2 separate regions of the Homo sapiens genome follow, and region 2 is linked to region 1. A link means that fine-mapping ties the variant in region 1 to the plasma level of a protein whose gene starts in the linked region. Region 1 holds a variant in brackets. A gene starts in the other region. All regions are shown on their forward strands.

Region 1 (15,650 bases):
GATTTGGGAGGGAACCTGGGGTGGAATGATATGGGTCGGATGTGTCCTCACTCAAATCTCATTTTGATGTGTAGCTCCCATAATTCTCAATGTTGTGGGAGGGACCAGTGGGAGGTGACTGAGTTATGGGGGTTGTGTCTCTCCTGCACTGTTCTCTTAATAGTGAATGAGTCTCATGAGATCTGATGGTTTTAAAAAGGGGAGACCCAGCACAAGCTCTCTTCTCTTGTCTGCCGCCATGTCAGATGTGCCTTTCACCTTCCACCATGATTGTGAGGCCTTTCCAGCCACGTGGAACTGTAAGTCCAATAAAACTCTTTCTGTTGTAAGTTTCCCAGTCTCTGGTATGTCTTTATCAGCCACGTGAAAACAGACAAACACAGTCAGACGTGATCTACTCAAGGTCTCTTTATCAGCAGCGTGAAAACAAACACAGTCAGACGTGCTCTACTCAAGGCCTCTGCACATGGAGAAAAACCACGGAAAGTGGAAAATGCATTTTCTTGGTTTGATGAAAAATACCTGTAGAAAACACAACCCTGTGCCAGGACATCATGCAGAATTCAGAAATATTGGAATTGGAATAAATGTGAAAATTACAATCATTTGCAGCTGCACATTTGTTCATTTATCTTCAAATGAAATAAAGTAAAAGTAGGTGTTCTCTGTAAAAATCCACAAAGAGTGTGTTGACCTTGAGAATACACCCCTCTCTCAGCCTCTAAAGGTGAGAAAATGCACCTGGATCAGGTGTCAATCTGCTGCTTTGTGACGTCTGTGGTATGGCTTGTGCTGAAGCCCAGGTGCTGTGGTCAACTCTAATGGAAGGAAGGACTCTTCAATGGTTTTGAGGCAGAGACATTACTGGAGTCATCAGGGTCCCCTGTGGGGTATGTTCCTCGGGACAGTGATCAGTGAGATCAAGGCAGATCATTTCTGCCCCCAATGTGACACTCAGGCTTCTGCAGGGTGAGGATGTGTCCTCCTGTTACAAAAAAAAAAAAAAAGATACAAAGTTGAGGGGACATTTTGCAGCCAGAGACGACATCAAATGTTATTACAGAATTGGAAATCTAGAGAAGTTCTCTGGGGTAAGTTGCTAAAAAGGCAACCCTAGACCATGACAGGAAACCTAGGCTTATACCACCTGGACTTGCCCCTGGGGACAGCCCAGTATACAGTGTCCCAGGCTTTCCCTGGTTGTCCCAGGTACCCTGCAGGGAGGTTTGTGTCTGGGCTCACACTGACTTCTCACTGCGTCTTTCACACAGTAATACACAGCCATGTCGTCGGCTCTCAGGCTGTTCATTTGCAGATACAGTGAATTCTGGGCATTGTCTCTGGAGATGGTGAATCGGCCCTTCACAGAGTCTGTGTAGAGTACGGTATCACCACTTGTACTAATAACTGAGACCCACTACAAACCCTTTCTTGGAGCCTGGCGGACCCAGTGCATAGCAGAGCTACTGAAGGTGAATCCAGAGGCTGCACAGGAGAGTCTCAGGGACCCCCCAGGCTGGACCAAGCCTTCCCCAGACTCCACCAGCTGCACCTCACACTGGACACCTGCAAACACAAAGACACCAAGGTCAGAAACTGCCACACACATCCACTGTTTCTCTCACTCATGTCCACTCCCACTCAACATCTCTATTTATCTATGAATCACCTCTTAAAATAGCAACAAGGAAAACCCAGCTCAGCCCAAACTCCATGGTGAGTCCTCTGTGTTCAGTGCTGATCACGGAATGGAAACACCGCCGACTTCCAGTGCTGGGCTCCTCTCCCAGAGCTGCAGGGTCAGCTGGGCTGGTTTTCATCAGCAGAGGGAGGGCCCTATTCGCATGTCCCCCACTATATAGCAAGCTCTGTGGTGGGACATCTGAGGAGAGGCTGGGCTCAGGGCAGATGAAGTGTCCTGGGACAGATTGGAATAATTGTATCATTCAGGAAAATATAATTTTATATTATGTGCTTGTGCCTTGATTAATATTTAGCTCTCATAATCTTATTTTATTCTTACATATTTATACAATATGTTTAATGCAGGTTTCAATGTTACATTTTACAGGAGATAATTTACACAGAGAACACAGCAGTTGTGCAGTGTGTCTAAAATTACACATCTAAAAAAATTAGTCCTATTACCTGGGCCTGTGCTCTAACCACTGGAGGAGGCAGCTCCCCTGAGACAACTCCAGGGCAGCGTGGACCATGCCTAGTGAAGTCTGCAGGATTCCCCATCTGTTATGACAACTTTCTGTAATTTACCAAAATACGTAGAGTGAACCATGGTTCATGTGCATGTTTTCATAAGTCAGTCATATTCCTTGTGTTAACATCGATCTGTTTATTGCTCCATTTTAGTCAAATGTTATTTTATTGGTTTCTTCGTTATTGCTTTATTCAAGTGTAATTAATAAGTAATTAATTCAAATTTATAGTGAAGGATTTGAAAAATGTTGACCTATGTTTGCAGCCATTTGCTCAGCACTTCAATCAAGTTTTGAATAATTAAATTAATCCCTAAATCTTTCTTTTATTTCTCTGAAATTCAACTCACATCCACATTACTCCCAACAGCGTATTGTCAGACAAACTCAAATCTTCTCCGTGTTAATTTACAATAATGGCATCTTCTAAAATTCCTACAAATGTATCATATAAAATTTACTCTTAACTCCTTAGTTTCTTTCACTAAACAGAATTACTTGAGAATTTAGCCATGTTGTTTATATGAGTGAGGCATGCCTTGATTTCAAGCTGCGTTATGTTCCAGTACATAAATATATGCCAAACTATTTAATTGTTCACCTGTAACTAAATGTGATTTGTTCTCTCAGTTAATGGATTTGATAGAGAAAAGCAGCTACTAAAGCATGGGAATATAAAACGGAGCAAAGTATGGGCCGGGCGCGGGGGCTCACGCCTGTAATCCCAGCACTTTGGGAGGCCGAGGCGGGCGGATCACAAGGTCAGGAGATCGAGACCATCCTGGCTAACACGGTGAAACCCCGTCTCTACTAAAACTACAAAAAATTAGCCGGCCATGGTGGCGGGCGCCTGTAGTCCCAGCTACTCTGGAGGCTGAGGCAGGAGAATGGCGTGAACCCGGGAGGCGGAGCTTGCAGTGAGCTGAGATAGGGCCACTGCACTCCAGCCTGGGTGACAGAGCGAGACTCCGTCTCAAAAAATAAATAAATAAATAAATAAAAAGAGTAAAGTATTATCTTATTCTGACCTCATTAACAACAAACCTGAACAACCACACACAAAAAAACCTTCAACATATTTGAGTTTATATCAGAGAGAAAACAAACAATAAACAAAACCTGAAATCTGAGGAGAGAGGAGGCTGCAGAGAAGCAGGACCCATATATTAGTGTACCTGGGGCAGATACAACTGGATGGCATTTAAGATAGGAACAGGCTGGCTTGGAAATATTCAGCGAGTTGCGTGAGGATGCACGTGCTCATAGTGTTAGACTGTGAAACTCCTGGTGCTTGCAGGCTTTTCCTACAGAATTATTATTAATATTCTTGCTGCACTTTATGCAAATAATCAGGCCAAGTTTAAGACTAAAGTTTATTTTGCAAACAACTCAGTCTTACAATTACTTGATTCTGACAAAAACCAGAACTGGAAAGAGAAAAATTGTATTTCAAAACATATCATACGATCATCTTTAAATTCTAATCTCTTCAGTTGTTTAAGTATTTGCCTGCATTTTAGACTGACTGCTTATTCCTGAGCGCCAATCAATGATCTCTGGCTACAGCCCAGAAGAAACAAAAAGCGATGGGGAATATAAAAAAATCTGTATCAATATTTTAATTCTAAGCAATTATCCTTTAAATCATGCCAGGTGATGGGAATGAATAGGGTGCCCCTAACCTGGAGGTTTCTTTGTTTGGGAAAATAAATCCCAGGGAGCTGACAAAAGCCAAGCCTCATGCGCCCAAACCTTAGCAGGCATAACTACAGCCGCAGTTATCTGGGCATGTCAGCAGCCTTGGAATTTTCTTTCAAACTGTCCTTACCACCTTGACCACCTTGTTAGGTTTGGATACATGTCTTCTAATAATCTGATTTGCCTTTTCTCGTTTTCAGACCATCAAACTCCAAATGCTCATGCAACTGAAGCCTGGGATAATGGCTCCCTTTTCCTGGGGTCCCTTAGACAGGCCTCCAAGAGAGATCTTCCCCAAACAGCATCCCCCGTCAGCTGGAAGCAGTTAAGATTTGTCTTTGTCTCTATTCTAACGACAGTTAGATGTATTTCTTCAAAGAGGAAAATGATAGAGGTAGAAGGCAGAGAACTCTCCTAGGCAGGTAGGGAAGAGTCCCCATAGAATCTCCAATGCACCAAGGTCATTGTGCACAGGGGGTTGCCTAGACATGCCTGCAGTGAAAATTGTTAATGTTGTCTTTATCACTCTCGGAATAAATAACCACACATAATAATCCAGCTGCATGAAGATAAAAAATAACTAGTTTGAAATTAGAACAAGTTCCAATAAAGTCAAAGTTAGCATGTGGTTTATAACATGATAGGAGACATGGCTGAATACTAAGAATGTGTTCACATCTGTTTTATGTCATGATCAGGAAAATATTTTGTATATTCTCTATGTAAGAGTCCCATTGAGAGCATTGATGAACACTGATGGATAATACCTCAATAATAAAGTAAGGGTTATTAACTAGTAATTTGTATTAAGAGAACAAACTTTTATTTAGGATATATTATTATATGTGTTGTGAAATCAACTGAGAAGGCAGAAAACATTGAACTTATTAGAGCTTTTTAATAAATTAAAAATGAGAATTAAGTACATATGTTTCTAGATTGTGCATAACTTTGGAATGTTTTGTTTTCTTTTATTTTGAGATGGACTCTCGCTGTGTCTCTCAGGCTGGAGTGCAGTGGCACAATTTCGGCTCACTGCAACATCAGCCTCCAGGGTTCAAGCAATCCTCAAGCACCACCATGCCCGGCTAATTTTTGTATTTTTAGTAGAAAGGAGGTTTCACCATGTTGGCCAGGCTGGTCTCAAACTCCTGACCTGAAATGATCCCCCCCACCTCGGCCTCCCAAAGTGCTGGGTTTACAGGCATGAGCCACTGGCCTGGCCTGGAATATTTTTACAAACAGAGAGGGTTCTTATGTATTCTGGAAATCCTATCAAACTGGAAAACAAGGAAAGAAACTCTCAGATGAATTTCTACTTACTACAGAGCTGATTAATATCATTTTAAAGCCAACGCTAACACGCAGACAAAAAACTAACATGGAGCTAAAAAATAAAATATACAGTGATTCAATACAGCAAACACTGTAGCTCAATCTAGTTTATAATATTATCTAATCATGGAGGGCATTGTCTTTGTTCATACGAGACAGAGTCAATCCCACTCACAACCTTCTGGGAATGTTTAAAAAGTGGCATCTCTACATATTTTAATAAAATGTAAAACTCCCTTGGTCAAGGGTTCTTCCACTAGCACTATGGAATCATGGTCCAGTCCTCAGGGTACATCAGTTATTACCCTATGACTTGGTAGCTAAAAGGCCCATACGTTTATAGACTTTACCCCCAGAGATCATGTTTGCTCTATTGCATGCATGTGTTACAAAATACTGAAAGTGATTCCTGTGTGATATCCACTCTAACAATGAAGAGTTTAAGGCTGCCTTTTTACTACATATTTTCCACAATTCCCTGTGATCTTCAGCAAGGAAACTGGAAGGAACATCAGCGGAAAATACTGCTCGTGAATCACATAGGAAGGAACCTTATCAGATGCTTTTAACTAACTCACTGCAGAAAACATTCAGGCAGTTAATTATTGGCTTCATATTTTACAACTAAAGAATAAATTCAGGTCAGATGCAGTGGATCTTCCCTATAATCACACCACTTCCAGAAGCAAAGTGAGGGAAATCCTATGAGACCAGGCAATCGAAGCCAACCTGAGCAACATAAAGAGATGCTATTTCTATGAAAAAATGTTTAAAAAATAAGGAGGGTAGGGGTGGTGTGCCCATCTAGTTGTAGATACTCAGAAAGCTAAGATGGAAAGGTTGTGTGAGTCAGGAGCTCAAATTTAAGGTGAGCTATGATCACACAACTGTACTTTAAGCTGTGGAACAGTGTGAGAGCCTGTCCCTAAAAACAAACAAAAAATAATCAATTAAGAATTCCACACAACTGTAAAGCTACTCAAATAGGAGATGTTAAACTGAGCATCCTCATAGACCCTCTGGCGTTTCTGATGTTTTTAAGCAGATGGCTGACCTAAGACCTGCAGAATAAGCTGATAGTCCTTGATTGTGAAAAGCTTCTACCCAAGACATTAGACCAGGCCCCTGTTTAATTTTCCATCCACTTCTTATTTTTCTCATTATTCTTTGCTTACATTTCTAAAGTCATCTCATTTCTGCAGATCTGGGTGTTGTCCACCCATACTGAACCCTTGTCTTCTTTCTTATTCATTATTTTTATTCCTGCTGCATGGAATAAGTTGTCACTCTATCTTTTGGTGCATGACTGCTGATTACTTAAGGCTCACTCCTCCATCGTCTCCTTTTTTGCCACACAAGATGAATCTAGTTCAGACTCACAGGAGCTTCTTCATTTGATGCCAGTGGGAGTTTCAAACCCTATAAACCCCCATCTGTGAGTGGGAAGCTTCACTTTGCCCCCACCACTAAACCATTATAAAAACCCTGAGCCAGTCTCCTTTGGTTTTCTTTCAAGCCATTTTAGATTTTCCTGGGAGACCTGCCCTGCACTCAGCAGACACCTCTACAGTGTAGATAATGAACTTTTCCCTATTCACTTGCTCTGAGTGTGTGACTTCATTAGACACAACATACACACTAAATCTCACTTGAGATCTCTTGGCTTTGCATGGTGTCAACTACAACTGATAATATGAACTTGGTGTCACTGTTTCTATCAACAGGACACACTGGATCCCTGAAACAACTCCAGGACAGAACTGGACATGTGATATAGATTGGTTTTGTGCCCCACCTAAATATCATCTCAAATTCTAATCCCCACATGTCAAGGGAGGGACCAGGTGAGAGGTGATTGGATCATGGGGGCAGTTTCCCCATGTTGTTCTCATGATAGTGAGTGAGTTCTAACAACCGCTGATGGTTTAAAAGTATGTGTCACTTCCCCTCCTCTATCTCTCTCCTGCTGGGCTGTGAGACGTGCCTTGCTTCCTCTTCACCTTCCACCATGATTGTAAGTTTCCTGTGGCCTCCCCAGCCATGCAGAACTGTGAGCCAACTATACCTCTTTTCCTTGTAAACTACCCAGTCTCAAGTAGTTTTTTATACCAGTGTGAAAATGAACTAATACAACATGCCTGGTGGGTTTGATAAACTTTCTTAGTGATGTAAAATTATGCCATTATTTTGCTGTATTCTAGTGCTTCTCTAAAAATACAGAGATGTCCAGTGCTCATTCATGTGTATATTCAGGATTCTCTGACTTTTCATGTATTTTATTTATCTTTAATTCCTTTGATACCAATTTATACCTGTTCTAATTAATACTATCTTTAATGGGGCTAAACTAAAAACAATAATCTCCACATGAAGTGTTCAATTTTGCAAATATTGTCATAGACATTATCACTATCAACATAGATAACAAGTCAATTCCCTCAACATTTTATCTTGTTCCATAATTCCTCCTTCCTAGACCATCCCTTCTCCTACAATATTCACAGTGAACTACTGATTTTTTTTTTGCAACTTTAGATTACTTTTTGTTCTATAGAACTTATGAAAGTTGTATCCTATGTATGCACTTTTATCACTTGGGCTCATTTTACTCATCTGAAGTACTTGTGAATTTAACCATGCTTTTGAGCATAGCCAACATTAGCTGATGGTAGTAGTGGGTAGTATGTCAATGAATGACTTTTCCACAATGTGTTTACCAGTTAAGCTGATGATTGACATTTGGGTTGTTTTTCATTCTGGGTATTATGAACAAAGATGCTACTCAGCTTAGAGAAGTACACAGCTGGGAAACAGATGGTTTTTATTGCTACAACAGCATAAACAATGAAGCTGCAAAACACATTAATCAGGTTTATTGAATACATCAGGTAATAAAAGTTATAGATTTATGTGTGTTGTGGGGTGGGTGTATGTAAATTTCTGTGTGAGAGAGAGAGAAGAAGGGAGGACGGAAGGCAGAAAAAGACACACCTAGCTATGGTTATATATTTATATCAATATCATTTTCTAATCATACAAACACATGCATTAGAACAGATGTAGTGGAGGGTGTCTGGTGGTGAAACATGATGGTGACACAAAACGCCTCATCCAGCCCCTTTTCACACCAGCTGCACCTGCCCTGAAGCTGAGCCTTGAACCTGTTCTTTCTGAATCCCCACAATTGTCCTGAGCCCCTCGCTGTACCGAGCACCCTTTGGTGTCCTGATTTTCCTCCATGGTTCCTGAGAGCCCCCGGCTACCTGCGTGCCTCTACAATGGTCTTGAGTGCCCCTTGGTGTCCTGAGAGCCCCCTGGGCTCCGGAGTAACCCCTTCTGTCCTATGCATCCCCACAGGGAGGTTTTGGTGTGAGTTCACACTGTGATTCCCTCACTGTGTCTTTTGCTTAAAAATATATGGCTATGTGATTGTTGCTCATGTAGCTCAGCTGTAGGAAGAACTGTTTTTGGACATGGATCTGGGGATGGTGACTGGACTCTTGAGGAAAGGGGAGTAATGTGTGCTCCCTTCATGACCTATGCACCCAATCCACTCCATTCCCTCCCAGAGAGGGGCTGATGGATGCAGCTCCAGGAGGAAGCACTGGTTGTGATGGAGAATGCAGAGATGACACACATGAGGGAGAGGGTCTGTGAGGGCTTCACCAGGCCAAGAGTGCACCGAGAAACACAGTTGTTGGCAGGCACACGTTCTGGACAATATGTTGAAATTCCCAACTACATACATTTCTGTGAGAATAAAGAGCTCACCTGTGTTCGATCCGTGAGTATCCCAGAGTAATGCAGTGGATTCTGATGTTGGATTCAGACAAATATAGGGTCACATGTTTCTCCATACTTGGAACCAAGTAATAAAGAGAAACTTATGTCAGGAGAATAGCCATTGAACTATCTCTCTTTATGGTGATTTTCAGAATAGGATTCAGATGTGATAACTTAAAGAGTGTCCTAATTCTTAACCCACAATTAGGCCTGAGAAGCAGTCACAGGCACTGGAGGTCGCCCACATGGAGAAATGTCTGACTCACTGAAGCTGCACCTGGGGGTCTCTGCAGGCTCTGAATT[G/A]TACAGGAACAGCTCCTCCCCTAGACTCAGAGTGAGGACAATCTCTGCTCTTTCTCTAGGGGAGGTGAGGGTTAGTGTGTGGAAAGAACCCAACTTATTTTCAACAAGATCTCTGTACTTGGGCAAAAAGAAAGAATATGAGAAAAAATGATTTCAGTTTAAACAGAACAATTTCTCATGTGGAAGGCAAAAATATGTTTGGATCTTGCACAGAATTAAGAAACAATGAATTTGGGGTAAAGTTGAAAATTACAATTTCTTTGCAGATTCTGTTTTTAGTTATCTATGTCATCTGAGAAAATGAAGTAAAATCAGGGTTTTTATATAAAAATTCACAAAGAGGGTGCTGGGCCTGAGAATGCACCTCAAATCCCTCCAACATCAGGGAGCCCAATAGACCAGGCAGCCAGCTGCTGTACTGCACTCTAACACCCGCCACCTGGTGTGTGCCAAAGACACTCATCCTGGGAGCTCCTCCCAGACAATGGCTGTGCACAGTGGAGATACTGAGGCAAGGCTGCTGCTGGGACACATGGGAGATTCCTGATGGACTACTGTGCTCTGGAAGGCACCAATGGCCTTGCTGGACTTAGCTCGGACCACAGGATAGGTAGGAAGCTCCACTGAATGCCCACTACTCTCCAGTGCTAGTTGTGAGACTGGCATTGCGGGGTGGCAGTGTCTACAGCCTCACCTGGCCGCCTGTGCACTTTTGTGCCTCTAATACTTACTTTTGTTTTTGGGACATATAAGAATGTTTCCTCTTTTAAATTAAAGTTTTGTAATCCAGGGACCTCATGGTGGGCACAGAAACATAAAAGTGCAGAGGATTCGAGGGGAACTGCTACATGCAGAGGAAAGCACAGATCCTGAAGGACAGCAGCCCTTGACTGCTTTTCTGTACCTGCCCTGGGGCTCCACCTGTTTTGTGAGTGCTGAGTGTCCCCTTCGGCCCAGAATCCTTTCTTCTTTCTGCAGGAAATTTTGTGTCTGGACTCACACCGATGTTTCCTCACTTGGAACCTTATGTACAGCCATGCATGGTCATGTCCTCAGCTCTCAGACTGTTCGTTTGCAGATACGGTGAGTTCTTAGCATTGTCTTTGGAGATGGTGAATCTGCCCTTCACAGAGTCTGCATGGTATATCTGACTTCCATCATATTTTACATCTATTACTCCCTCCAGCCCCTTCCCTAGAGTCTCATTGACCCAGCTCATTCAGTAGCTACTGAAGGTGAATCCAGAGGCTACACAGGAGAGTCTCAGGAACTTCCCAAGTTGTCTCAGGCCCTCTATGGACTCTATCAGCTCCACCTCACACTGAACACCTGAAAATACACAAACGTCCTGGTCAGAAACTGCCAAACACATCTACTGTTTTTCTCACTTATATCCACTCACTCTCACTCACTCTATTTCTCTATGAGTCACCTTTTAAAATAGCAACAAGAAAAATTCTGGTTAGCTCAAACCCCATAGTGAGCTCTGTGTTCAGCCCTGATTACCACATGGAAACCCCTGGGAATCCCAGTGCTGTGGCTCTTCTCCCAGAGCTGCAGGGCCAGGTCTGGGCTTGTTTTCACCAGTAGAGGGAGGGCCCTGTTTTCATGCCTCCTCCTCTATAGCAAGCTCCAGTGTGGGATGCCTGAGAAGAAGGCAGTGCCCAGAGCAGATGTGAGACTCCCGGAGGAGCATAATTGAACAAGTGGAACTAGATTAACAAAAAAAGATTCTGCAAAGCAACGAAATAATTCCAACTCACAGAATTGGATAATATACCATGTATCTGGAGGAGTTAGTGGCAATGACAGCATTTGGGAAAATATGATTATTCATAACGTGATTGTGCCATGAAACTCACTAAGCAATTATTATTTTATTTTACTTTTTACACAGTACAAATACAAATATAAATGCATTAAGCAAACTTTAAGATATATATATAGAGAGAAATAGAAAACTATATAAAAATAAGGGAAAACCTTAATACCTCACTTAGAATAATGTATAGCAAATCCAGAAAGAAAATTCTTAATAAGCCTCTGAACTTGAACAACAGTATTGAACAAATTTACCTGAAAGACATTTACAGAACCTTCCAACCAAGAGCCATGTAATACACATCCTTCTCAAGCACCCATTGAACATTCTCCATGATAGGTTATATGTTACATCATAAAATTAGTCTTAACATTTAAAGAATTAATGCTAATGCTTCTCTAACTCTTTCAAAAATTGGTGAGGAGTCCACCTTCCAAACTCTTTTTTTATATATAGTAAATAAACTTTATCTGTTTCTCAGAGATGACACTGCCAACAGTCACAGATTTGCATACAATACTGTTAGGTATTGGGTATTTACAATTTACAGTATTTTTTTTCCTCTGAAAAATATAAGCACAAAAGCTAAGTAAACAATGACGTACTGCCATTTGGAATTTATTACATGCCATAGTGTAAAGAACTGGTCTCTAACAAATATTCAACAAACCAACCTGAATAAAATAGTCGGTTAGGGATTTAGTACATGGCACAGCTTAAAGAACTGGCCTTTAGCAAATATTCAACAAATCAACCTTAATACAATAGTCAATTAAGTGATTTATTATTTCTAATTCATTAGAAAAAATCCACTAAGTCTCACCTCAAAATGTATTGCACAATCTTTATGAAAAAAATCACCCTAAAAATAATTAGGAAAGGTAAGCAGTTCTTTAAAAAGAATGGAAGAAAGGAATATTATGTAAGCCCATTAAGCAGGTTAAGTTATTCAGAATATCTTTTAAACAACATAAAACTCTTCCCTTGGGAGGCCGAGGCGGGCGGATCACGAGGTCAGGAGATCGAGACCATTCTGGCTAACACGGTGAAACCCCATCTCTACTAAAAATACAAAAAGTTAGCCAGGCGTGGTGGCAGGCGCCTGTAGTCCCAGCTACTTGGGGGCTGAGGCAGGAGAATGGCATGAACCCAGGAGGCGGAGCTTGCAGTGAGCCGAGATTCTGCCACTGCACTCCAGCCTGGGCAACAGAGCGAGATTCTGTCTCAAAAAACAAACAAAACAAAACAAAAAAACAAAAAACAAACAAACAAACAAAACTCTTCCCAACAGAAAACTGAAGAAAAAAACTATCACCGTTTCTCCACTGATAAAATCTATTTTAAAGGTAGTCTGCAACACACCTTCCAAACTCTTTCTATGAGGCTACCGTTAGAGTACTACCAGTAATAGACAAAGGCACCACAATAAAAGAAAATCATAGACCAATATCATTAGTAGACATAAATTAACCCCCCAACAATAGTAAAATAAATTCTAAAGATTTTATAGAAGACCATACACCATGATCAACTCAAATTTATTCTGAGATGCACAGATGATTTGACATTCTCAAATCAATCAATTCAGTTGATTAATTAAAAAACTAAAGAAAAAATATCTCAGTAACATTTCATCAGACACAGAAAACACTTGAAAAAAATTCAGGATTTCATTATAAAAACTCTGAACAAAGTAGGAAGACAAGAAAACAACTTGTACATAATGAAACCAATTAAGAAAAGCCACAGCTATTATTATACTCAATAGTAAAATTTTAGAATATTTTGGTCTAATATCTGTAACAAGGCAAGAATAAAGCTTGAGGTATTACACTTCCAGGCCTCAACATTTATTAGAAACATACAGTAATAAATCAGAATGGCATTCGCATAAATTCATACAGAGAGCTTAGATATAAACCCACATATTGATGGCCAGCTGACTTTCAGCGTGAGAACCATCAATATATAATTGCTAAATTATAGTGTCTTCCAAAGAGCGTGTTATGAAAATTGGATATTTACATGCAAAGAATTAAGAATTTTAGGTTAGAATAAACAAAAAAATTAATTCTAAATGCATTAAATACTTAAATGAAACACGTGCAATTGTAAAACTCCCAACCCTCAAAAAATTAGCAATCTTTTTCTGGATTTTACATTCAAACAAATAAAAAAACACAGAATTGGACAAGTGGGACTAGATTTAAAAAAAGATTCCGCAAAGTAACAAAATAATTCCAACTCACAGAATTGGATAATATGCCATGAATCTGAAAAAGCGTTAATATCCAAAATGTAAATGAAACATCTACAACTCAATAACAATAATAAAAATAGCATAATTTAAACATAATCGGTTTTACACCTTTAACAATGTGAGAACCTCAAACTCATGTTCAATGTTTTTCTCTGTGGGTAACAGTCTGCCTGATGGTATGCTTGGTTGGGCAATACTTTGTAGTTATTTGATCAAACACTAATCCAGGTGTGAATTTTTAAATAGATGTTATTAAAACTGTGATCAGTTGACTCAATATTAGGTAGATTATCATCAATAACAAACTTGGCCCTGATTCCATCAGAACAGATCTGGAGAAGGTAAAACTCCGTGGTGATTAAGCAGCTTGAGATCTTTCTAAGATTTCCAGCCTGCATTTACTGATGGCTGACCCTAAGGATACTGCACGTTTCCAGCCATCCCCCAAAACTGTCATCCCCTACATCTCACAGGAAAGTGGTGTGTCCCTCTGCAGCTTGTCAAACCTAAACATCAGAGAGAAAGAGATTCTCCAAAATCAAATCGTATTTATTTGAAAATGAGCATTGCAATGGGATTATCCATGGTCACATTTAGGTTGGTAAAGAAAGACAAGTGTCTGAAGGATAAATGAGAAGATTACCTGAGCTATTTTGAGACAATTATCCTGGGGTAGAAGAATCAATAACAAGGGTAGAATCAGTTTAAGGCTGAACAGGGAGTTGCAGGGCAGATATCCCCTCAGTATTAATTCTCTTATTGTTGTGGTAGCCTTTGTTCAAGATTGTGGTTGTGCAGAGTATTTTTAGGGTAATTCTTGTTATCAGGGATGTGTGCATGAGAACCCTCTATTCATGACCTCTTCCAGCTTCGCCTGTAAAGATTATAACACACGTGGCTCCATTTTTATTCTGACAACGTTCACACCCACTTCCTTCTCCACTAGTGAAGAACGTTACTGTGTGACGGTTTTTCAGAACAGGATTAGAAACACATCCACATCCCACATTAACCAGACAAGCTTGTCCCTTCAGTTCCCACTGGCAACTTGCATTTCCAGATGAGTCTCCATGCAACACAGTGGAGGGTCCTGAGTGACGAAGAGTGAAGAAAGTCCCACCAGACTCTCCTGCGTGACTGCAGCAGCCACAGCCTGAGACCCACCTGAGCGCCAAGAAAAGGGCTTGAGGTCTGGAATTTTGACCACAGCAAAAACATCTTCCTTTTTCGGAAAGCAGGAAAAGCAAATGGAAAAATGAGAACAACATCTAAAAAAGACAGTAAATGAATTAGGAAAAGAAGCTCCAGATCAGTATTGATTCTGATTTGCATTCTTCAGTGTCAGGAGAAGGGTCCTACGAGAAACCTGTGAGGTTCTACATGACACTGACCCTGGCCCAGCCTCTCTTTTTTCTGTAATCAGAATCCCCAAAGACTGTTCTTGCTGGGATTCACTCAGGATGGTGGCGGAAATATTAAAGGGGAATATTAAGGAAAGTTATAGGGAATAGTCATATACCTTTTTAGAAGGCCGAAAGGTTACATAGCTTGTAATAATTGAACAGGCTGAAGGCGGCCAGTTCTTACCTTAGAGCGTTAGGCATAGGGTAAATACTAGGGACAATAGAGGCCTCCCCAGTTAAGTCTGGTTACCCTACCTCCATTAACTAACCAGGGTATTGCCCCCTAATGGTATTTACTTTAGACCGCAGTCCCTGAGCTTTAATCATTCGTAGAACTACTCTCTTAACCATGTTAATTATCCACAAGTGTGTTGTCAGAGCTTCTGTTGTTAATTCTATACTCAATACACGCCTGGAGTGCGAGCTGCTCAGGGCCACTGCTGCCGTTCTTTACAGGATTCTTCTTGGAGTCTGTAAGTTGCCTCGGACCCTCAGCTGAACTGGCAAAACAGAATATCTGTGTGTCAGTGTACGTTTTATTCATCCGCCACCGGGTCAGGGGTCTGCAGGAACAGACCCCCCGCAGCTTGAGTTCTCTTGTGAGGAGCAATACCTCAGTTCTAGTCAGGATTCTTTCTGGAGTTCCTGTCCTCAGTCTGACTGGAGAAGACTCACCAGGAAGCCCTGAGCTTCCTCAGGACTCTGACAGTGGTGACCATGGTTGAGAACTTTTCATCTCCTCTGTGAGGATCAATCTGCATTTTCTGCATAGGAGAATAGGTTTTCATATTAAAACAATCATTTTAAAAATATGTAGAAATGACCCTAGTAAT
Region 2 (15,650 bases), not on the chromosome of region 1:
GTTAAACACAAAATGGAACTTCAGACACCATTTCACTAAAAGCTCACATCCAAAGGCAGATTTAATTTCACTGATCCAGCCTTTCAAGACTAACCATAAGAGAAGACTGCCCAGGTGGAATACCAAAGAAGCTTCTGATTCAGATCACCGTTTCAAACAAAAGTAAAACAAAATTGTTCAGGAAGCAGTTCAATTCCAAACAGGAAGCTGTACTAAATACTCCCAACAGTATTAGCCACAAGAGGGATGTTAGAAAGGGCTAGGAAGCAAAGAGGACAACCAGCACCTATCCTATAAAGTTAATTGGAAGCTTAGTTAACTCATTTCCACTAAAGCAGAATGTTAGAATTCAGAAGAAATGAATTTTTTTTTTTAGCAACAACCTGGACTACAGTTCTTTTTTTTTTTTTCCCCCCCTGGATACAGAGTCTTGCTCTGTTGCCCAGGCTGAAGTGCAGCGGCACGATGTCAGGTCACTGCAAACTCCACCTCCCGGGTTCAAGCCATTCTCCTGCCTCAGCCCCCGGGGTAGCTGGGATTACAGGCACGTACCACCACACCCAGCTAATTTTTGTATTTTTAGTAGAGATGGGGTTTCACCATGTTGGCCAGGCTGGTCTCGAACTCCTGACCTCAGGTGATGCGCCTGCCTTGGCCTCCCAAAGTGACGGAATTACAGGCGTGGGCCACCATGCCAGCAATTTTTAACAAACCTGATGACACACGATAGCAGTAATTTAGGAGCTGGCCTCCTTTAACACAAAGGTTAATAAGACAGCCCCTCCCCACACACAAACCTGTGGATCAGCTTTAAGTTTTAGCTTAATTTGACATAACAAATAAAAGTAAACTGGAAAGCTATTTCAAGGGTCCATCTAAAAGACTATTACTTAACCAGACTTTCTTTCAAATTGATCTAGGGTTCTAATGAGCAAAATTCATCCTAGCTGCTGCGGTGGGGAGAGTCAGGGGAGGGCCACCAGTGACAAGCAGAATCAATTATCCTAAACAAAAAGCACCTAAGCATAATTTAGAGACAAAGCATGGTTCAGTGGAAAGAACACTGACTTTGGAGCCAGACCAGCCTGTGCTCTAGAACTAATACTTGGTGCCTCAGGACTCTGAGCCAGTTATCTGGCCCCTCGGAAGCGCATCAGCATCCTCAGCAATTATTATGAGCTTTACGCTGCAAAGATGTTTATGAGTATTAGAAATACAACATAAAGGGTCTAAGAAACCCTTTTCTTTGGTTCAAGGAAAGAGCTAAATGAACTGCAACTTTTATATTATTAGGTAAATTCAACCTGACCTTTTAATTCCTTTTCTGCATAAAATAACTTTCACCCTGTAATTCTAACCTGGCACATGGTAAGAGCTCAATAGCAGTAAATATTATTATCCAGCAAATTCACTAAACCTGTCCTTACACATAAACATCTATAAAACTTACAGCAACACTCCACTTGTAAAAAATTTTAAATAGGATCAGAGAATATGCTGACTAAAACCAACCCACTCACTGAGCAACCAGTTCTGTAGCTACATCAAGTATAGGGGCAAGGCCGGGAACAGTGGCTCAAGCCTGTAATCCTATCACTTTGCGAGGCTAAGGCAGGCGGATTGCCTGAGCTCAGGAGTTCGAGACCAGCCTAGGCAACATGGCAAAACCCCATCTCTGCTAAAAATACAAAAAATTAGCCGGGCGTGGTGGTGCTCAATTGTAGTCTCAGCTACTCGGGAGGCTAAGGCAGGAGAATTGCTTGAACCCAGGAGGTGGAGGTTGCAGTGAGCCGAGATGATACCTCTGCATTCCAGCCTGGGCAACAGAGCAAGACTATCTCAACAAAAAAAAAAAAAAAAAAAAAAAAAAAAAAAGCAGAGGCAATCTAATGAAGGTTTAACCCTCAGCAATCATGTTCATTCAGGGGAAAAGACCCCAATGTATTTAAATAGATTTTCTTAGCCTTTATTGTCTGGGAGACATGACACAAAATTTCTATCATAATAAAATGGCCAGTTTTGCTTCCATTACTGTTATAAACCCACATAGTCATCACACTTCTTTCCCAAATTAGATTCCAGATTAAACAGATGCCAGATGGGTTACAGATTTGATATTCAGAAGACTAATTTTTAATCGAAAGCAAACACTTTCTCAAATAGATTTTTCCACTTTTGCTTCCAGTAAATATACTTTGAGGGAGTTCCCTGAGTCTACTTCTTTAACAAATAAACATATGTAATCCCAGAAAATATACAGCAATTAACAGCCTGCAGAAATTTTTCTCTACTTCCATTTATCTGGTGACATAAATCACTGTTACATCAACCTTATTCACCAGTATGGGAATGTAAACACTTAAAAAACAAATTAAGCTATTTGCAGTAATTCCCATTTTACCACTTTAAAAATATTACTTTTCTCTGCAGTAAGGTTTTCTAGTTCAGAGCATTAAGCTGTCAACAAGACAGATATCCAAGCCCATCCATCCCGTGGCATTTGATAAGATCAACACAGCTATATATTTATAATCCTATTATCTCCTTAGCAGGTGAGAACAATGGATTTGGCCAACATTATTCAAGCTTCATAATACTGTATGGTAAAATGTTCATGACAAAGAGCAGAAGGTATGCCGGGCACAGTGGCTCACGCCTGTAATCCCAGCACTTCGGGAGGCCGAGGTGGGCGGATCACAAGGTCAGGAGATCGAGACCATTCTAGCTAACACGGTGAAACCCCATCTCTACTAAAAACACAAAAAAATTAGCCAGGCATGGTGGCGGGCACCTGTAGTCCCAGCTACTCGAGAGGCTGAGGCAGGAGAATGGCATGAACCCAGGAGGTGGAGCTTGCAGTGAGCCGAGATCACACCACTGCACTCCAGCCTGGGTAACAGAGCCAGACTCCGTCTCAAAAAAAAAAAAAAAAATAGTAGACGGTGTTCAGCACCATGAAACAGGGAGGCAAAAATAGAAAGTAGATGGTATCTAAAGAGATGTACAATAAAACTTCATAAACTTTGTTATATGTTTGAAATTTTTCATAATAAAATGGTGGGGGTAAATAACCATAGCAACTAACATGTCCTCTCATAGTTCAACTGATAACTGGCAATTTATATTTTTTGGAACAGCACAAATGGTATACAGCCTTGACTCTGGTGAAGTTTTATTTAAAGAAAAGCTCATGTAGAAAATTACACGAGAAGCATTTCAACCACAAATGTCTCCATCACCAGAAGTCAATGTAAAATAACCTGTTATAGGTCTAGTGTGAAACAAATCTGTCATAAAATTCTCTAAACATTTTTGAAAGCTCTAAAATCCCATTCTGAGAGAAAAGCAACTCCAAAGCTCTTATTTGAGAGGGGAGGAATTTATATTTCCTCAAATTGAACAATTCTGTGTCACTGGGTATCACATCAAATAAGAAGATCCAATTTAGAGGCTCATGAAAACAAGGCCTCTGCCTATAATCCCAGCTACTAAGGAGGCTGAGGTGGGAAGATGACTTGAGCTCAGGAGTTCAAGACCAGCCTGGGCGACAAACTCTGGGATTGACTTGTGGAATCCCACAAAAAGATACCCTTTTCATGAAAGTTTCATCTTTATACTGAATTACACTCTTACTCAATCCAGTAAAAAGGCTCAAAGAAAGTTGCCCCACAAACTGAGACTACCTTGTGGTATTGGGGAGAGAGACTGGATGAAGCAGTATCCATTTTGATAACACCCAGAATGATATCAATGATCTGGACTTTAGAATGGGGATGGAGGAGAGTTCCATGAGTCATGGCCATTTCTAAACTTAAAATACAGTAAATCCTCTCTTAACATAAGGGGTAGGTTCTTGGAAACTGAGACTTCCGACTAACACACGCTTATTGATACAAACAAGAGTTAGGTTCTAGGGCATATTTCTCATCAGAAAAATATCACCAAACTTTTAAATAAAGACCAAACACTTCGAATATTAAACACTGAAATAAATGTGAAGTATACATGCCTTTTTTTTTTTTTTGAGAAGTACTTTTGCTCTTGTTGCCCCGGCTGGAGTGCAATGGCACGATAACCGCTCACTGCAACCTCTGCTTCCCAGGTTCAAGCAACTCTCCTGCCTCAGCCTCCTGAGTAGCTGGGATTACAGGTGCCCGCCACCCAGCCCGGCTAATTTTTTTTATTTTTAGTAGAGACAGGGTTTCGCCATGCTGGCCAGGCTGGTCTCCAACTCCTGACCTCAGGTGATCTGCCCACCTCAGCCTCCAAAAGTGCTGGGATTACAGGCATGGGGTTGCAGTAAGCCGAGACTGCACCATTGCACTGCAGCCTGGGTGACAAGAGCTAAACTCCATCTCAAAAAAAAAAATTTTTTTTTTTACCACTTATTCCAGTTCAGGGTTGGGGTGGCTGGAGCCTATCTCAGCAGCTTAGGGTGCAAGGCCGGAACCAGTCCTGGACAGGACATCCACTGCAGAAAGCACTCACACTTACACACACAGCTCCACACACCAGTGAACCTCACGTGCACAGCTTTGGGATGTGGGAGGAAATCAAGAGTACCCAGAGAAAACCCATGCAGGGATAGGGAGAACGTGTAAACTCCACAGACAGTTTTTTTTCTCAACATTATCTTGAAACAACATTATTCAAGGACCTGCTGTAATCTGTATATACATGGACTTTCTGGCTGAAACCTAAAAGAGAGCAACTTATTCTCAAGAAACTATATTTATGGTAACAATTCTCAATGCTTAAAAGTTTTACGTTAAGCTTAATGGGAAGCACTACACATTTTTAAAAATGTGTTGTGTCCTTTCCCAGATACTAAATTGGCGTTTCTTTCCTAAATCAATTTTAAGAGGTGTATCTTTCCCCATCTTCCAGGTAGTCATAACTAAAACATAACATGTAACATTTCCACTGTACCTGATCAAGCTCAAAGTACACCTACAAAACTCAAATAACAGACCTAAAAGCTGAAAACTATTCACGACCAGAAATTTGAAAGTTATGCAACAAAGACATTTATAATATTTATAATATTCCTGTCAACTTCCATTGTAAGAGAGATCCTTTAGACACAAGAAAGAAAAACGTGAACACTTATGCTGTGATTTCATACTATTCACAAAAATTAAGGTTTCATTCATATTTGCTAAATTTGTTATTTGGAAATAGGGCAGACGGGGGCACTTTGGAAAACAATTCTATGTTAGAAGATTATCTTTTGCTTAATTCTTAACCTAAGGTAACAGCAGTATCTTTACACAACTACTGTAAAGAAACATTTTAAGTTTTCATTATGAATTATTAACTGTAGTTTAACTTTGACACAAAGTTATCTCTATTAAAGTGGGTTAAAAGGCAGGTCTCTGCCAAAACAGGACTGGGGAAATCTGTATTTGTTCGCTTTTCAATTATAGTCATTAATAGCTCAAGAATTTTTGCTTTTGTACACAATAAAGCAGCAAGGTTGTATTTTGATTTTGAGGAGCTGAAGGCATTGGATCAAGAGTTAATTTTCTTCTTCTTTTCTGCTGTACAGAAATCATGTATAAACAGAGAAGGGAAGCCCAACAAACAAAAATGAGAACTATTATTCTACTAAAAGTAAATTTTGTGACCTTAATCTGGGGCAATCTGGTAAAAGTCAAAATCGCTAATGTTGTGACACAATGTTTAAGATTTGTTTCAAAATAATCTAGTTTGTGTGGGGGGATACAACATGAAACAAAACCGACCTTGGCTATGAGTTAATAATTGTCAAAGCTAAGTGAGTGACTAACACATGGGGTTCTCCATACTATTCGAGTTTCGCATGTTTTCCAGAATAAAAGGTTTTTAAAAAATGGTATTTAAAATACCATTTCCCTATTGAAATATGCCATTGTGATATGGCAGTATTAGACATGCTTTATACTGCTTGTATAGTTGTTTGCTTATGTGTTTTTTTTGTTTTGTTTTTTTGGAGAGAGTCTCTCTCTGTCGCCCAGGCAACCTCCACCTCCCGGGTTCAAGCGATTCTCCTGTCTCAGCCTCGGGAGTAGCTGGGACTGCAGGCGCCCGCCACCACACCAGGCTCAAGAGATAGTCTCCATCTCCTGACCTCGTGATCCACCCGCCTCGGCCTCCCAAAAGTTCTGGGATTACAGGCGTGAGCCACCGCGCCTAACCTGCTTATGGAGGCCTAGGAGGGTGGATCACGAGGTTAGGAGTTCGAGACCAGTCTGGCCAACATGGCAAAACCCCGTCTCTACGAAAACTACAAAAATTAACACGGCGCGGTGGCGGGCGTCTGTAATCCCAGCTACTCGGGAGGCTGAGACGGGAGAATCTTTTGAACCAGGGTGGCAGAGGTTGAAATGAGCCGAAATCGCGCCACTGCACTCCAGCCTGGGCGACAGCGTGAGACTGTCTCAAAAAAAAAAAAAAATTCAAACAAACATTTTAAATTACAAACAATGGTAAGACTGTCAGAAAATTCTAGGAAAATGTCAAAAACAAGGAGGCCACTTTGCCGCATGTGTGTTAAGAGATGGGTATAAATCAAAATAGTTTCAGTTCACTAAGGAAATTTAATGCCTAAAACAATCCTAAGATACAGGAGGATCACTCAGGTAAACACACACTCCTTACTCATATAAAATTGAACACCCATAAGTTGCATTTCCTTAGAGTACACCTATAAAACTAAGTACAGAATTTTTAAAAACCCAGTATGTTTTAGTAAAGTTGCTGTTCTAAAAATCCCACCTGTCACCAGGATAACCGAAACTGCTCCCTCTACACTCCAACTGTATTTTTAGTTTTTACCTCAACAAGTAGCAATGCAATTTACACTTGGTAAGCACGGATTCCTGAAACGCCAAAATCAACCGGGAACCTGATTTAACTCCACCACGCTCTTAACAATGAAAGCTACAAGCAGAAGAGAAGTGTGACCTTAAAAACTTCCACACAGCCGAAGAACAGTGGCAGAACAGACTGAAGCACGTATCTTCGCGGAACAGAAGAAAACTTCCACACAAGCAATACTGCAACACGGAGGCGGGGCAAGGGCTTAAAAGGAAAGTCAGCCAACAGGGAGGGGTGAATATAAGCAAAGCTTCCGTGAAAAAAAACTTATCGAGGTGTAGAGCAAGACAAGACAGACAAATTTTTCCATCTCCGTACACCCCCCTTCAGAGCCCAACACACAGCAAGTGCTCTAGATAGGTTTGCTCAACTCAAGGGAAGCTTCTGCCAGCAACTTTCCCAGAAATGGAATGACAAGAAGAAGCTGGATGATGGCGGGGCGGGGAGAAATGGACAGGTTGCTCATCCTGCGGGAGATGGTGAATATCCTGCAGTTGCCTAAGCGGAGATGGAAAGAAACAGCATCCATCGTTTACAGACTGTCAACTACAGTGTCCCAATTAAGCGTACGCCCCTTTCAGATGTTAACAACTGAAAACAATGCCCTGGCTCTGGACATGGGCACGCGGAACACTGCAGCCTCTAAGAAACCCAAACGGATAGGTAGGTCAACTTCTATCCACTCTGCCCATTAAATTATACCTTCATATCACGCTAATAAATTATGCAGACGGTTTACTGGGACACGCTGTGGGTCTGGCACTCTGATAAGCGCTTTACACGCCCCATTTCACTGAACCTTAAGAGGCAGGGACGGTATTAGCAGCCCCTTTTCCAACCAAGACACAAAGACTTTTTAAGTGTCTTGCCTAACGGGGCAGAGCCGGGTTCGGCACCCGTTTTGGACACCTGGGCCGTGCTCTTAACCACTAAGCTACAGACCTGGGCCGGCGACACTGAGAGGCTCCAGCCCTCGGGGACCTGAAGCAGGGACCCCCCCCCCCCCCCGCCTGCGCCCCAGCCCCGGGAATAACTTCGGCATCCCCGCGCGCGCCATGCGGGACGAGGAAAGGCGGCCGCAGCACCTGTTTGTGGCACCGGTGAGGGCTGGAGGGGATGGGGGCGCCCGGGGCCAGGCCTCAGGGCGCCCCGAGGCGAGGGAACGCAAGAGGACCCGCCTCCTCCGGGAAGGCCCCGCGGGCTAGAGAGAGGCCCGGGAGAAGGCGGAGGGGTGCGCGGGCCCGCCGAGGCCTAGGCCCCACCCGCCGCCCACCTCCCCACCGCGGCGGCGCCCGCGAGGGCCCCACCAGGCCCGGCCCGGCCCGGCCGCCTCACCTGGCTGCTGCTCCGAGCTCGTCCCCCGGCCGGCGGTCCTGGGCGGTGGCGGCGAGGAGGGGAAGGAAGAAGGAAAAAAGGGAGAGGAAGAAGGGACGAAGGGAGGGAAGAGGCGGAGTGGCCGTGGAGGAGGCGGGCGCCGCCGGGCCGGGGGGGGGAGGCGGTCAAAGGAAGCGGGAGCCGAGAGAGACGCGGCAGCCGCCGGCGCAAACGCTGAAGAGCCGCTCAGGCGCCCGCAGCCCGGCAGGAAGTGACGGGGGAGGGGCAGGCGCCCGCCCCCGGCCCCCGCCCGCCTCCAGGCCCGGCCCCGGCCCCACCCCCACCCACGGTCCGAACCACAAGTTCCGGCTGGCACTGCGGCGGAGCCTGCGCTCGCAAGGCACGCCGGGGGCCCAGCGGGAGGAGCGCCCTGTCCCGCCTGGACCGCAGCGGCCCGTCCTGAGTCCCGGGGCCTGCCGGGAGTTGTAGTTCTGGTGGGAGTTTCGCGCTGCCTGCTGGACTCGAAGCGGGTCTGGGAGAACCCAGCCTACCTTCTTTCCTCCTCCACTTCCTTTTTCCTTCCTTGCTGTCGCTTCTTCCTCTTGTCCTGCCTCTGGCCTTCCTTTCTCTCCTTCCTGCAGTTGTTTCTTCCTCCATCTGTAAATGTTCATTAAATGCTTGCCATATGCAAGGCATTGCTCCAAGAGCTAAGAATGTAGTGGTGAACTGACAAAAATCCCTGCCCTCGTGGAGCTTACATTCTTGTGTAAGTAAAATACACAATAAATAAAATTGAAAAATGTGTAGTGAGATAAAAGACAATGGCCCGGGCGCGTTGGCTCAGGCCTCTAATCCCGGCACTTTGGGAGGCCGAGGCGGGCGGATCACTAGGTCAAGAGATCGAGACCATCCTGGCTACCACGGTGAAACCCCCGTCTCTACTGAAAATACAAAAAATTAGCCGGGCGTGGTGGCGGGCGCCTGTAGGTAAACAGCTACTCGGGAGGCTGAGGCAGGAGAATCGCTTGAACCCGGGAGGCGGAGATTGCAGTGAGCTGAGATCGCGCCGCTGCACTCCAGCCTTGGCGACAAAGAGACACTGGTCTCAAAAAAAAAAAAAAAAAAAAAAAAAAAAAAAAAAAAAAAGACGAGAAGTGCCAGATTACTATTTATTTCACCCAGACCTAGATAAACTAAGTGGTTTTTAGCAGCTGTATTGTATGGGAGGTTGGAGAGAGGGTGGCCAGTAAAGAATCTTGGCCAGGCGCAGTGGCTCACGCCTGTAATCCCGGCACTTTGGGAGGCCGAGGTGGGCGGATCACCTGAGGTCAGGAGTTCGAGACCAGCCTGACTAACATGGTGAAACCCCGTCTCTACTAGCCGGATGCAGTGGTGGGCGCCTGTAATCACAGCTACTTGGGAGGCTGAGGCAGGAGAATCTCTTGAACCCGGGAGACGGAGGTTGCAGTGAGCCGAGATCACGCCATTGCACTCCAACCTGGGCAACAGAGTGAGACTCTGTCTCAAAAAAAAAAAAAAAAAAAAAAAGAATCTTGAACTTCTGCACACTCAGCGAAAATTATGCTCGCGTTGTGAGAGGTCCAAGAAACTGAGAATGAATGAAGGAACTGCAGGTGCACAGAGCTTCTCTCTCCCGCTCACTCTGGGACTGCCGCCCCACTATTTAAAAATAATTCTCTCTTTCTTAAATGTCTCTCAATCTAATAATTGCTCAATCTCTCTTGCCAACGGAATATAAATTCAAAATACGAGCTGCTGTGTCTGAAGAGGCCCCTCCAAACAAGGCTTTGGAGCCTTAGCGAAGCCTGGGAGGACACTTGCCTCCTTACATTGCTTCTTGTGAAGTGCAATGACACTGAATTTCAGAACACCAAAAATAGTCAAAGGACTTTCACCGTCCCTTTAGTGCCCATCCAAGACAGTAGTAAGCAACATTCAGATATTGTCCAGCCCTCTGCTAAAAGTGATCTTTTCTTTCTAACTTCCAAGCAGTGTGGATCCCATACCTCCTTGGGTAAAGGAGCAGATGCAGAGAGGTCTCCCTAAACCCAAAGCTGCGCACAATCAGACAATCTCGTCAAAGGTGATTTTGCTATCACCCATAGGGACAAAAGTGGTGGGTCTATGACTTCCAGTCTCAATTTTCTTCCCTCTTTCCTCCTTCCGCATCTTTTTTGTTTTTTTCTTGAGACAGGGTCTCGCTCTGTCACCTAACTAGAGTGCAGTGGCATGAGCACAGCTAACTGCAGCCTCAACCTCCTGAGCTCAAGAAATCCTCCTACCTCAGCCTCCTGAGTAGCTGGGACCACAGGCATGTGCCACCACTCCCAGCTAATTTTTTAATTTTTTATAGAGACAGGGTTTTACTAAGTTGCCCAGGGTCTTACTAAGTTACTAAGTTGACCAGGCTGGTCTCAAATTCTAGGCTCAAGCAATCCTCTTGCCTCAATCTTCCAAAGTACTGGGGGGATTATTCCAGGTGTGGGCCACCATACCTGACCAGGAGTAGGTCACCTAGATTTGTTTTCTTCTGTTTGTACCTAGAAACTATCAGTCAAGTTCTCTTCCAAGGTCCTGAAGACCTCTTGAGTCTTGCTAAGTAATTAAGGAATCATTTTTCTTTACCTTGAGAAAAAGATGGAAGCTGTGTGTTCTTGGTTCACAAGAAACTGTGAGCATTAAGTATGTTACGATAAATTATGTGTGTTCCTTCTCACAAGATAAATTATGTGCATCTGTACTAAGGAATGGGAACATGCAAAACTCATAAAAGCCCTGTGAGATGCTGAATTTTTTTTTTTTTTTTTTGAGACAGAATCTCACTCTGTTGCCCAAGCTGAAGTGCAATGGTGTGATCTCGGCTCTCTGATGCAAAGCTCATAAAAGCCCTGTGAGACATTTATTTTTATTTTTAATTATTTTTTTTTTTTGAGACAGAGTCTCCCTCAGTCACCCAGGCTAAAGTGCAGTGGCGCGATCTCGGCTCACTGCAACCTCCACCTCCCGGGCTCAAGCAATTCTCCTGCCTCAGCCTCCCGAGTAGCTGAGACTACAGGCGCTTGCCACCATGCCCTGTAATTTTTGTGTTTTTAGTACAGACGGGGTTTCGCCATGTTGGCCAGGCTGGTCTCGAACTCCTGGCCTCAGGTGATCCACCCGCCTCGGCCTCCCAAGGTGCTGGGATTACAAGTGTGAATGTTAACCTCTGATGAATTATCTGTTCCACTCTCATAGCCTCTTAGTAGAACTTTGCACCCTTATAATTTTCAATTATCTGTTGAGTATATCTATTAGGCTAGAACTAAGTGATCAACTTCCATGACAGCAGAGACTCAGCCTGTCTTAGTAGTCATGATGGTCCCTGGCCCATAACACAGTGCCAGGGACACAATAGTACATGATAAATTTCCGTAGACTGCTGAAAAATTACAGCCTTGCTTATCTCTGCGCAAGTCCCTAAGAAACAGGGAACACCTGTAGGGTTGATTGGTGTATGTCAGGGTCACCTGTGGTATGTGTAGCACAGGAGAACAAGGTTGAGAACTACTTGCTGGCCTAAATAAGTAATTCCCAAGCTTATTTGAGGTAGCCTGCACTCCTAGGGATATATCAGAATCTAAGAGCAACAATTAGAAGACATAAAAATATAATGGGGCCGGGCGCAGTGGCTTACACCTGTAATCCCAGCACTTTGGGAGGCCAAGGCAGGCGGATCTCTTGAGGTCAGGAGTTCGAGACCAGCCTGGCCAACATGGTGAAACCCCATCGCTACTAAACATACAGAAATTAGCCAGCCGTGGTGGTATGCAACTTTAGTCCCAGGTACTCGGGCATGTGAGGCAGGAGAATCACTTGAACCTGGGAGGCAGAGGTTTCAGTGAGCTGAGATCACGCCACTGTATTCCAGCCTAGGCAAGAGAGCGAGACTCCATCTCAAAAAACAAAATGAGGCTGGGCACGGTGGTTCACGCCTGTAATCCCAGCACTTTGGGAGGCCGAGGAGGGCAGATCATGAGGTCAGGAGATCGAGACCATCCTGGCTAACATGGTGAAACCCCATCTCTACTAAAAATACAAAAAATTAGCTGGGCGTGGTGGCAGGCACCTGTAGTCCCAGCTACTCGGGAGGCTGAGGCAGGAGAATGGCGTGAACCCAGGAGGCAGAGCTTGCAGTGAGCTGAGATCGAGTCACTGCACTGCAGCCTGGGAAACAGAGCGAGACTCCATCTCAAAAAAAAAAAAAAAAGAAAAAACAAGAGAAAAAAGATATAATGGAAGATCCCATTTACAAAGCAGTGGAAAAATAAAAATACCTAGAAATAAACTTTACAAGAAATATGCACAATCTGTGTGAAGAAAAAATGTTTAATTCTGCAAAAGAATACAGAAAAAGACTTGAACAAAGAGAAATACAGGTTATGGTATTGGCTAGGAAGGTTCCATCCAGATCATTAAGATATCAGTTGATCAAGACATTGAAGGACAGCCTGGCCAACGTGGCAAAATCCCAACTCTACAAAAAAAGTACAAAAATAATTAGCCGGGTGTGGTGGCATGTGCCTGTGGCCCCAGCTACTTGGGAGGCTGAAGTGGGAGAATCGCGTGAGCCCAGGAGGTTGAGGCTGCAGTGAGCTGTGATTGCACCACTGCACTCCAGGCTTGGAGTGAGACCCTGACTCAAAAAATACATTAAAATTTAAAAAGACATTGAATGAGATCCCAAGAAAAATAACAAACAGGATTTTGTTTTGGATCTCTATGAGCCATGTCTAAAGTCTTATGGAAAAATTAATAAGAAAAATAACCAAGAACTTTCTGAAAACTCCTGACCAAATAGCAAACATACTATTGGTAAAGCATTACCAATTAAAATAGTTAGATGCTAGTGCCTGATTAGTTCCACAATCAATGGAAGAGATATTTCCAGATAGACACAAACACATGTATGAATTTAATACTCAGTAAAAGTGGTATTTCAAGGCTGGGTGCAGTGACTCACGCCTGTAATCCCAGCACTTTGGGAGGCCAAGGTGGGCGGATCACTTGAGGTCAGGAGTTTGAGATCAGCCCGGCCAACATGGTGAGATCCCATCGTTACTAAAAATAGAAAAATTAGCTGGGCATGGTGGCAGGCGCCTGTAATCCCAGCTACTGGGGAGGCTGAGGCACGAGAATCGCTTGAACCCAGGAAGTGGAGGTTGCAGTGAGCCGAGATCACACCACTGCACTGCAGCCTGGCCAACAGAGCAAGACTCTGTCTCTAAAGAAAAAAAAAAGGCCGGGCCGGTAGCTCACACCTGTAATCCGAGTTCTTTGGGAGGCCAATGCCAGGGGATCACAAGGTCAAGAGATAGAGACCATCCTGGCAAACATGGTGAAACCCCATCTCTACTAAAAATACAAAAAGTAGCTGGGCGTGATGGTGCCCACCTGTAGTCCCAGCTACTCAGGAGGTTGAGGCAGGATAATCGCTTGAACGCGGGAGGCGGAGGTTGCACTGAGCCAATATCATACCACTGCAACTCCAGCCTGGGCCTGGCAACAGCGCAAGAATCCGTCTCAAAAAAACGGGCCGGGCGCGGTGGCTCACGCCCTGTAATCCCAGCACTTTGGGAGGCCAAGGCAGGCGGATCACGAGGTCAGGAGATCAAGACCATCCTGGCGAACACAGTGAAACAACGTCTCTACTAAAAAATCCAAAAACTTAGCCAGGCGTGGTGGCGGGTGGCTGTAGTCCCAGCTACTCAGGAGGCTGAGTCAGGAGAATGGCGTGAACCCGGGAGGCGGAGCTTGCAGTGAGCAGAGATCGCCACAATGCACTCCACTGTGGGCAACAGAGACTCCATCTCAGAAAAAAGAAAAAAAAAAAAGTGGTATTTCAAATTGGTGAGGAAAAGATAGATTTCATTTTATAAATACTTTGAGACAACAAGGTAGCTTCTGGGGCAGGGGGAATTAAATGTGTACTTCATATTACATACCAGGGAACATACCAAATTGATCAAATATTTAAATAGAAGAAAGGAAACTGGGCTGGGCACTGTGGCTCCCACCTGTAATCCCAGCACTTTGAGAGGCCAGGGCGGGCAGATCACCTGAGATTGGGACTTGAGAGACCAGCCTGAGAAACATGGAGAAACCCCGTCTCTACTAAAAATACAAAATTAGCTGGGCATGGTGGCGCACGCCTGTAATCCCAGCTACTCAGGAGGCTGAGGCAGGAGAATCACTTGAACCTGGGAGGCAGAGGTTGCAGTGAGCCAAAATCGTGCCATTGCACTCTAGCCAGGGCAACAAGAGCGAAACTCCGTCTCAAAAAAAAAAAAAAAAAAGAAAAGAAAAAGAAAAAAGAAAGGAAACTGGCCAGGCATGGTCACCCATGTCTATAATCCCAGCACTGTGGGAGGCCAAGGTGGGAGGATTGCTTGAGCCCAGGAGTTCGAGGCTGCAGAGAACTATTATTATTACTATTATTATTTTGAGACAGAGTCTCGCTCTGTCGCCCAGACTGCAGTGCAGTGGCACGATCTCAACTCACTGCAACCTCCACCTCCTGGGTTCAAGCAATTCCTCGTGCCTCGGCAGCCCAAGTAGCTGGGATTACAGGCGCACACCACTACACCTGGCTTATTTTTGCATTTTCAGCAGAGATGGGGTTTCACTCTGTTGGCCAGGCTGGTCTCCAACTCCTGACCTCAAGTGATCCACCCACCTCAGCCTCCCAAAGTGTTGGAATTACAGGCATGAGCCACCCTGTCAGCTTGTAATGAGCTATGATCTCACCACTGCACTCCAGCCTGGGCAACAGTGAAACCCTGTGTCAAAGTAAAAAAAAAAATAATAATAACGGGAAACCATAAAAGTACCAGAAGAATTCCTGCAAGAATGTTTGTATCACTCTGAAGTGGAGAAGACTCTTTTAACTATAACACAAAATTCGGAATCCTTAAAGGAAAAGATCAATTCATTGACTCAGGAAAATAAAAAATGTGATAAGAGGAAATACAAAGACAAATGATAAACTGGAAAAAATTTGCATCTCAGAGAGGATGATTTCACAAATTTCATGACATGTAAGGAATTACTTTGAATAGCAGAATGATTAACAACCCAATGAAAAATGATTAAAAGATAGCAACAGGCTGGGCGCTGTGGCTCACGCCTGTAATCCCAGCACTTTGGGAGGCCGAGGCAGGCGGATCACGAAGTCAAGACATGAAGACCATCCTGGCTAACACGGTGAAACCCCGTCTCCACTAAAAATACAAAAAAATTAGCCAGGTGTGGTGGCAGGTGCCTGTAGTCCCAGCTACTCGGGAGGCTGAGGCAAGAGAATGGCGTGAACCCGGGAGGCGGAGCTTTGTGAGCCGAGATCGTGCCACTGCACTCCAGCCTGGGCGACAGAGCAAGACTCCGTCTCAAAAAAAAAAAAAAAAAAAAAAAAAAGATAGCAACAG

Alleles and levels. Positions count from the first base shown, and alleles are read on the strand shown. Strength reflects both the effect of a copy and how common the allele is.
For the plasma level of the protein whose gene starts at base 8,412 in region 2, A is the high allele of the variant in region 1 and G is the other (strong association).

Evidence for each region. PIP is the posterior inclusion probability: the model's chance that the variant is causal. The UK Biobank Pharma Proteomics Project read protein levels with antibody pairs (Olink). The fine-mapping took linkage between variants from a reference panel, not from the people measured, so its PIPs are less certain.
Region 2: STAU1 starts here. The variant in region 1 is fine-mapped to the plasma level of the STAU1 protein (UK Biobank, PIP above 0.99).

The regions. Positions count from the first base shown.
Region 1 is chr14:106,641,871-106,657,520 of GRCh38, forward strand. It overlaps IGH, the pseudogene IGHV3-62, the pseudogene IGHVII-62-1, the pseudogene IGHV3-63 and the pseudogene GOLGA4P3. Among named protein-coding and RNA genes, the nearest start is that of LINC00221, 170 kb to the left of the region's middle. The variant G/A (reference allele first, on the strand shown) is at 9,333.
Region 2 is chr20:49,179,923-49,195,572 of GRCh38, forward strand. STAU1 (staufen double-stranded RNA binding protein 1) reads right to left here and starts at 8,412. Exons shown (of 14, transcript NM_017453.4): 1 at 8,194-8,412. RefSeq lists enhancers at 541-1,069, 7,156-7,225 and silencers at 7,626-7,785, 8,016-8,685.